2 separate regions of the Homo sapiens genome follow, and region 2 is reported to be linked to region 1. The links are microRNA targets in miRTarBase. Many come from high-throughput screens and were not tested one by one. Region 1 holds a microRNA gene; the other region holds the end of a gene's coding sequence. Distances are from middle to middle.
The links. Region 1 holds the annotated microRNA hsa-miR-7976 (UGCCCUGAGACUUUUGCUC, at 2,885-2,903, opposite strand). A microRNA usually pairs through its seed, bases 2 to 8, with sites in the 3' UTR of a target mRNA and lowers its output. Matches are read on the target gene's strand: a 7mer-m8 pairs with bases 2 to 8, a 7mer-A1 pairs with bases 2 to 7 and ends in A, and an 8mer does both.

Region 2: miRTarBase lists CAMKV as a target of hsa-miR-7976. Seed matches in the 3' UTR shown: 7mer-A1 at 1,098-1,104.

What each region holds. Positions count from the first base shown.
Region 1 is chr3:127,584,274-127,588,340 of GRCh38, forward strand. It overlaps MIR7976 (microRNA 7976), which reads right to left and starts at 2,903; the gene lies at 2,838-2,903. The region is part of intron 1 of TPRA1 (transmembrane protein adipocyte associated 1); the gene reads right to left.
Region 2 is chr3:49,855,569-49,859,635 of GRCh38, reverse strand. It overlaps CAMKV (CaM kinase like vesicle associated), which reads left to right. Exons shown (of 11, transcript NM_024046.5): 11 at 1-1,647. The coding sequence ends at 318. It overlaps TRAIP (TRAF interacting protein), which reads left to right and starts at 3,072. Exons shown (of 15, transcript NM_005879.3): 1 at 3,072-3,280. The coding sequence starts at 3,183.

The DNA.
Region 1 (4,067 bases):
TACAAAAAGTTTAAAAAACTAGCCAGGTATGGTGGTGCATACCTGTAGTCTTAGCTACTCGGTGGGGCCGAGGTGGAAGGATCACTTGAGCCCAGGAGCTCCAGGCAGCAGGCAGCAGCAAGCTATGATCACACCACTGCACTCCAGGCTGGGCCACAGAGTGAGACCCTGTCTAAAAAAAAAAAAAAAAAAAAAAAAAAAAAAAAAGAAGCAAACTTCTAGAGATAAATGCTAAGTGAAGAAAACAGAGAGGTGGAGCAGAATGACAAGAAACACAGTAGAGACTGCTGGGTTCCCCCAACATCTACCCTTCCCTTTAGTGATGGAACCAATGGAGTTTAGCTTACACATCGCTTCCCAGCACAATGGGGACCTTTCCCAGCTTCCCTGCAACTGGGTGTGGCCATGTGGCTGAGTTTTATCCAACTGGACACGAGCTGAGACAGGCTGACAGTCCTTCAGCCTGTCATTTGATCTAATCCCATGGTGTGAAGACATAAACTCTAAAACAGAGGCCCAACAAAGATAAAAACCCTGACTTGTCTTTAAAAAGAACTTTTTTTTTGTTATAAACATATGACACGAGCAGAGTGAGGTCTGCTAATTTCAGATCATGCCCTCCTCCCTTCCCGGTGGCTGGAATATAGATACGACAGTGGGAGCAAGAGCAGCCTCCTCAGACCACGAGGCAGAAACCCTGTACGAGGGTAACAGAGCAATGAGAAAGAAGGTGTCTGGGTCCCCAGCACAATGAGGCCTCCGTGCATGTACTGGACAGCTTGCACAGAGGCTGCCTGCATAGATAAAAATAATCTATTTTATTATCCTAGCCTTTGTTTCAACAGCTAGCCCAAATCCCAATGAATATAAAGGTACTGCTTGGACTGGGTAGTCAAACAAGGTGACATTTTGAGCCGAGATCTCAATAAATAAGCAGGAGCCAGCCTTGGAAAGATCGAGATAAAGAACATTCCAGGGAGAATCACCTAAGATCCAGATGCACAAGTCCAGAGGTAGAAACAGGTTTGGCCTGTCCCAAGGGCAAAAAACAGGCCAGGGTAGCTGATACCAGAAAGGTTGGCAGGGCCAGGTCCCACATGCAACTCGACTTCACTCTAAGTGCAACCAGAAGGGTGTTACAAGGAGTGAGAGGTCTGGTTTCCATGGGGACAGGATGCCAGTGAAAAGGGACTGAAGTGGAGGAGGAACAGAGACAGGGAGGCCATGAGGAGCTCCTGCAACAGTCCATGCATGAGAGGACAGAGGCTTGCACTAGTGGCAGCAGTGCAGGTGGAACAGAGGGACTTGGGAGACCTTTGGGAGGCTTGGCCAACAAGACCCACTGACAGATCAAACACAGGGAATGAGAGAAGAGGCCAAAGACGGCTGATGGTGCAGTTTCTGGCCTGAGTCACTGGATGTTTTGCAACTGAGGCCAACACTGACCACCAGACACTGTCCCCTTCTTCCTCACTAACAAGCTACTATTTTGTTCAGGATCCCTCCATAAAACCTAGTGTTCAAGCAGGGGCCCCTCCCCAGGACCAGAAGTTGAGTCTCCATTAATTTCAGCCAATGGTCTCTGGGGTGGAGCCGGTGTGGAGCACTGCTCTAGTTTGACATGGCAACTGCTAGGGAATGGAGGACTGTGGATTTTTTTGTGTGCAGGGTCCAGGGCTGCCAAATGTCTGCAATGCATAGGACAGTCTGCCAAATGAGTAACTAACTGTCTTCCCCTACAGCTAGCATGCCCTGCAGAGTGGCTCTGGTCGAAGTCAAGAAGGGTGGCCCTTCTGCTCCTGGCCAGCAGTTGGTTGAGGCAAAGGCATGTGATGCCTCATGGGGGGATCTGTGCCTGTGTGGGGTGTCCAGAACTGTCTTCCTGCACCCCTGGAGGACTGGGCCACCACGCTGAGCATGCAGGAGCTTACAGCTGGAAGCGGGTGTGCAGCGCGCCTCCTGCATGACTTCTGGTGGCATGAGATAATAACTTGTAACTTTGAGTTGAGAGTATCAGTGACCTGATGAAGGAGGGAGATTCTACAGCCCTCTCCTCCCCACCCCATTATTTATTTATTCATATATTTTTCAGACAAAGTCTCACTCTGTCACCCAGGCTAGAGTGCAGTGGTGCAATCTCAGCTCACTGCAACCTCTGCTTCCCAAGTTCAGCCTTCTGGGTTCAAGGAGTCTTCCCATCTCAGCCTCCCAAGTAGCTAGGATCACAAGTGTGCACCACCACACCTGGCTAATTTTTGTATTTTTAGTAGAGACAGGGTTTTGCCATGTTGGCCAGGCTGGTCTAGAACTCTGGACCTCAAGTGATCCACCTGCCTGAGCCTCCCAAAGTGCTGAGATTACAGGTGTGGGCCACCATGACCAGCTATCCCCACCCCTATTATAAAGCCAAGCCAGGCAGAGTGAACGCCTGGTCCTAGCAGCCCAGCACCAACTCTGACCCAGAATGGAATGTCACGCAGCCCCAAGACGGGCAGGGCCAGGGTGCAGGCCAGGCACCCAGCAGTCACCAGCAAGCTGAGAGGCCCCTTGAGGCACAGAGGCCAGTGGGGAGGAACAGGGGCAGGGAGTAGGAGAGTGGGGGAGTCAGGCAGAGTCCAGGGTATGGAGGGCGGGGTGGGCTTCTGGTTTTGCCTGCCCAGCATCCAGGCTGCTGCCAGTTGGTAAGAGCACCGTTTTCCTGAGGTGGAAACTCAGCTCCCAGACTCTAGACTCTCTGGAAGTTTAGGGATGCGTGACTAACCCTTCACAACCCAGGGAATGCACCTGTGATCTAAGTCTGGCTAGTCAGGATGTTCCATCACCCTGGCCAATGAAAATCTGCCCTGAGGCTTTTGATCTAAATTATTATTAGAATAAATTATTAGAGCAAAAGTCTCAGGGCAGATTCTCATTGACAATTGAGGAAACACTCTCTGCTGAGCTCAGTAAGTCAGGGCTGTACCACCTTGACCTCACGCTCAGGTACCCGCCTCAGAGTAAAGCCGACGCGGAGGAGTGGAGAGCTGAGACACGGATGGAGACAGATCTTGATGAGCTCACTGGAGCCCCTGGATTCAGCCACATCCAAAGCCAGTCCTACCCGCTTGGACTTTTCAGTTATAAAACCCAACAAATCCCCTTTTCTGCCTAGGCCAGTTTGAGTCTGACTTCTCTAATTCACCAGTGAAAAACCTCCAGCTAACACAGATTTTGGAGTCAACAAGACGGGGCTGCACTGCTGGTTCTGCCACGTGCTTGCTGTGTGACCTGGGGTGAGTCACTCCCCCTCCAAGTATCATGGGGACAACATCTGCCTAATAAGGGTGCCGTAAGGATCAAACAAAACCAGGGATGTAAACATCTACAAAAGTGACACATGTACAAAGGTGGTTGCTGCTTTTCTTTTTTTTTTTTTTTTTTTGAGACAGAGTCTTGCTCTGTCGTCCAGGCTGGAGTGCAGTGGCGCGATGTCGGCTCACTGCAACCTCCACCTCCCGGGTTCAAGCAATTCTCCCACCTCAGCCTCCCAAGTTGCTGGGATTACCAGAGAAGAGACTGAAGGGCAAGGAGGGAAAGGAATTGGTTCCCAGGTCCATGGACCTCTTGTGAAGCCCCCATTGCTGTGGGGTCTGAGGAAACACAGAGGAGGTGTCAGCTGCTCTGCCTGCCCCCACTCCCCTGCCAACAACGTAGTAACCTCTGTGCCTAACCTCTGAGCCCTGGCCTCCAACCCTGGGAGGGAGGTACTTATGTTATCCGCATTGTGCACGTGGAGCTCAGAGGGGCAGCCACTTGCCAGGCCAGCAATCCAGGCTGTCTGTCTCCAGAGCCCAGGCCCCCAGTCAACAACTTGCCAGGTGCCCCTCTCCAGGCCTCGGCTTCTCCACCTGTGGGTCAAGAGCACCAGGCTTGTTCTAGAGCTATCTTCTCAGACCTGATGTGGGAAATACCCTGGTGTTGTTAACATGCAGATGCTGCTCCCAAGGGCAGGGGTAGGGCTGAACAGTCTGTGTTTCCCACAGGCTCCCAGGTGGTGCCCCTGCTGCTGCTACTTGATCCAGCAACCA
Region 2 (4,067 bases), 78 Mb from region 1:
GCCACTGATGGCAGTGTCACCCCAGCCACCGATGGAAGCATCACTCCAGCCACTGATGGGAGTGTCACCCCAGCCACTGACAGGAGCGCTACTCCAGCCACTGATGGGAGAGCCACACCAGCCACAGAAGAGAGCACTGTGCCCACCACCCAAAGCAGTGCCATGCTGGCCACCAAGGCAGCTGCCACCCCTGAGCCGGCTATGGCCCAGCCGGACAGCACAGCCCCAGAGGGCGCCACAGGCCAGGCTCCACCCTCTAGTAAAGGGGAAGAGGCTGCTGGTTATGCCCAGGAGTCTCAAAGGGAGGAGGCCAGCTGAGTAGGCAGCCTGGTGAGGGGGGGCAGGGGATGGGCAGGAGGGTGGGAGAGTGGATGAGGGGCTTCTCACTGTACATAGAGTCACTGGCATGATGCCCTCGCTCCCCCATGCCCCCACATCCCAGTGGGGCATAACTAGGGGTCACGGGAGAGCAGTCTCGTCTCCTGTGTGTATGTGTGTGAGTGGTGGGCAGGCCAGTGGCAGGGCCGGCCCCAGCCCCTGCATGGATTCCTTGTGGCTTTTCTGTCTTTTGCTAGCTTCACCAGTTTCTGTTCCTTGTGGGATGCTGCTCTAGGGATACTCAGGGGGCTCCTGCTCTCCTTCCCCTTCCCTTCTTGCCTCACCATTCCCCTAGGCAGGCCCTGCAGGTCCCACACTCTCCCAGGCCCTAAACTTGGGCGGCCTTGCCCTGAGAGCTGGTCCTCCAGCGAGGCCCTGTCAGCGGTCTTAGGCTCCTGCACATGAAGGTGTGTGCCTGTGGTGTGTGGGCTGCTCTAGGAGCAGATACAGGCTGGTATAGAGGATGCAGAAAGGTAGGGCAGTATGTTTAAGTCCAGACTTGGCACATGGCTAGGGATACTGCTCACTAGCTGTGGAGGTCCTCAGGAGTGGAGAGAATGAGTAGGAGGGCAGAAGCTTCCATTTTTGTCCTTCCTAAGACCCTGTTATTTGTGTTATTTCCTGCCTTTCCGAGTCCTGCAGTGGGCTGCCCTGTACCCTGAACCTCATGAGCCTCTAAGGGAAAGGAGGAACAATTAGGACGTGGCAATGAGACCTGGCAGGGCAGAGTACAAGCCCAGCACCCAGTGTCCCAGCCTTACTGGGTCCTTACCCTGGGCCAAACAGGGAGGGCTGATACCTCCTTGCTCTTCCTAGATGCCCACCTCCTACAATCTCAGCCCACAAGTCCTCTCCACCCTAGGGGGCTTGCTGCATGGCAATAACTCATAATCTGATTTGGAGGTTTGCCCTTTACAGGGGCAGATTTTCTGCTCAGTTCAACAATGAAATGAAGAGGAACTCCCTCTTTCTACAGCTCACTTCTATCAGAGGCCCAGGTGCCTCAGAGCCACATTGAGTTGCTTTTTCTGGGATGAGGAAGTAGGGTTAAACTCCCCAGTTTCCTGAGGGAGGCTCCTGACAGGTGCCCTTTGTCAGACCCTACCACAGCCTGGATAGGCAGCCACATTGGTCCTCGCCCTTGCTCGGCACTCCGTGGTGGTCCTGCCCTTCTCCCTGCATGCCTGTGGGTCTGCTCTGGTGTGTGAAGGTCGGTGGGTTAACTGTGTGCCTACTGAACCTGGCAAATAAACATCACCCTGCAAAGCCTCTGGCCACCCTCTCGCCTTTGCTTCCTCTGTCCTACTGGGGAGGAGCCCCTGGAAGGCAGTGGGGAAGGGAGAGGCTGGGAGCAGGTTCACAAGTAGTGGCTGGGAGTAGTAGTGAACAGTGCCCTGTGGATTTCTTGGGCTGAGGGTGAAGATCATCCTCACCACAGTGTATTCCTCAATGGTGGTGGTGGTGGGGGTCCTCTGAACTCTAGAAATCCATGTGAGTAGTGGGTCTTGGGCTGCATTTGGACCAAGGAATACTCCCTGGGCTGAGAGCTCAAGTAAGGGCTGCTGTTTTTGACTCCTGTTGACCGAGGAGCCTTACTCTTGATTTAGGCATAGAGCTGGAATCTACCTGGGCCAGCCACCGCAAGGACAGACCCTGCTCATAGCCAAAGATAGCTTCCCTGAGCTAGGGAGAGGGTGTAGGGTGAGCAATGCACAAAGATTCTATGCTGCTCTGTGTTGATTCCTTCTTTCTGTGAACACCTGTGCTTTCCACCTATGCCCCAAATGAAATCTCACTCTGGGTCTATTTCAGCTGGAGCAGATCAGCTTTATATTATGGGACTATGCACAGGGTTTCTTCTGGGTAGAGGGAGTAACACTGCCACAGATACTAAGCCTAAAAACCCAAAAGTTGACTTACTCCAGCCCAGGTGGGCCTGGGTGAACTCACCAGGGATGCTGCTCTCTGGGAGGACCTCAAAGATAACCTCCTCAAAGATAACTTCTCTGATGTGGGAATAATAAAAAGGATTTGTTAGTCTCTAGTCTTTGAAGCATCTGGGCCTCCAAAATTCCAACCCTACTACAGTCTCAAGCATAACTGATCCTCCTGAGAGCTAAGAGCTAAAGTCAGGGTACTGGCCCTAGTGTCTCCAAACTCAAGGATAGTCATATCTTACTTGGATGAAGCCAAGGTTGGCCTGGGGTGACCTGAGGGACTGGGGCCTATGTGTCCATCTTTCTAGAATCGCCCGGAACTGAGGACTGAGAGGGTAGGGTATTGTGGTCTATGGGAACTACAGACCATAGCGCATGGTCCATCACTGTCCAGAGCCCAAGGGACCCATCGGGACCATTGTTCTATTCCCTTGCGGCTGCGGTTTTCTCTGCCTTGGCCCAGCCTGCCTCGCGCCAGCTCTGGCATGGGACCACAATGCGCTGCCTTGCCCTGGAAAAGGGTCCAGCTGGCAGCCTCGCTGCTCCCCGCCTTGATATAATGCTGCGCTCTCAAGTGGCAGGTCGAGTCTCCCCAGAGGACGCCTGAGAGCGACCGCGCTCCGCCCAGGATTCTCTACGGCCTCGGGGCCGCTAAGCCCCGCCCATAGTTCCGCCCATCCGAGAATTTGTCCAATCCAGGCGAAGTATTCACGCTCCGCCCAAAGTTTTGTGTTGTCACTTCCGGCCCGCTCCAGGAAGTCGTGCTGCGGAGCCAAATTTGAAGCAAGCGGAGGCGCGGGGGCGCGTCTACGAAGCCGGACCTGTAGCAGTTTCTTTGGCTGCCTGGGCCCCTTGAGTCCAGCCATCATGCCTATCCGTGCTCTGTGCACTATCTGCTCCGACTTCTTCGATCACTCCCGCGACGTGGCCGCCATCCACTGCGGCCACACCTTCCACTTGCAGTGGTGAGTGACTGCAGTGTTGGGGCCCGGTGTTTGCCCGGGTACCGCTTCAGGGCCTTGAGGTGTTGGGCCTCCAGGCGGTCCAACCCCGGAATCCAGACAAGTGATGAGAACCTTCCTCCTAGACGAGGCCCCACGGGAGCTTCCCAACCTGGGCAGAAGTGGGTCAGGACAGGCTTTCTGGTAGAGGTGATAGCTGAGCTAAGCCTGAGGGGGACTAAGATGGCTCAGTGAAGATAGATGCTTCCTTGATCACCTATACAAACAGATGTGATTTCAAAACCGTTAGCCTGGGCAAGGGTGAGCTTTCACCACATCAACAAGTCCTTTTATTTCTTCCAGATAGAAACCTGCTAGGCTTCTGGCTACCCAAGAGAGTTTGCTGTGCCTTACTTGATGGTTTGGAATTATTCTACCCAGAGTCATCTCACTGTCCAGACACCCCAATGTATTCGCCATGTCAGCAAACCCGTTTAACATGGGGAAGGCAAGGAGATGCTCCCCTATCCAGGGGTCCTGCTGACCGTGTAGGGCCATTCTGTTGAGTGTACAGCTAGTGGGGAAAGATTCCCCTAGCAGATGTGGACAGGCCGGTTTGGACCTCCTAGCAAAAGAGATAAGGCAGCGTTACCCCTGGGAATGGTGGGTGATAATAATCACAGGGTCTTGTGGGGCTAAAGGCCCTAGGAAGCAGAAAGGCAGGCATGACACTGATGGCTGCTGGCTTACTTGCAAAGCTTTGTTTAGGCCTGTGTTGCTGACAGCCTGAGCCCCATGCTGAGGGAGCCAC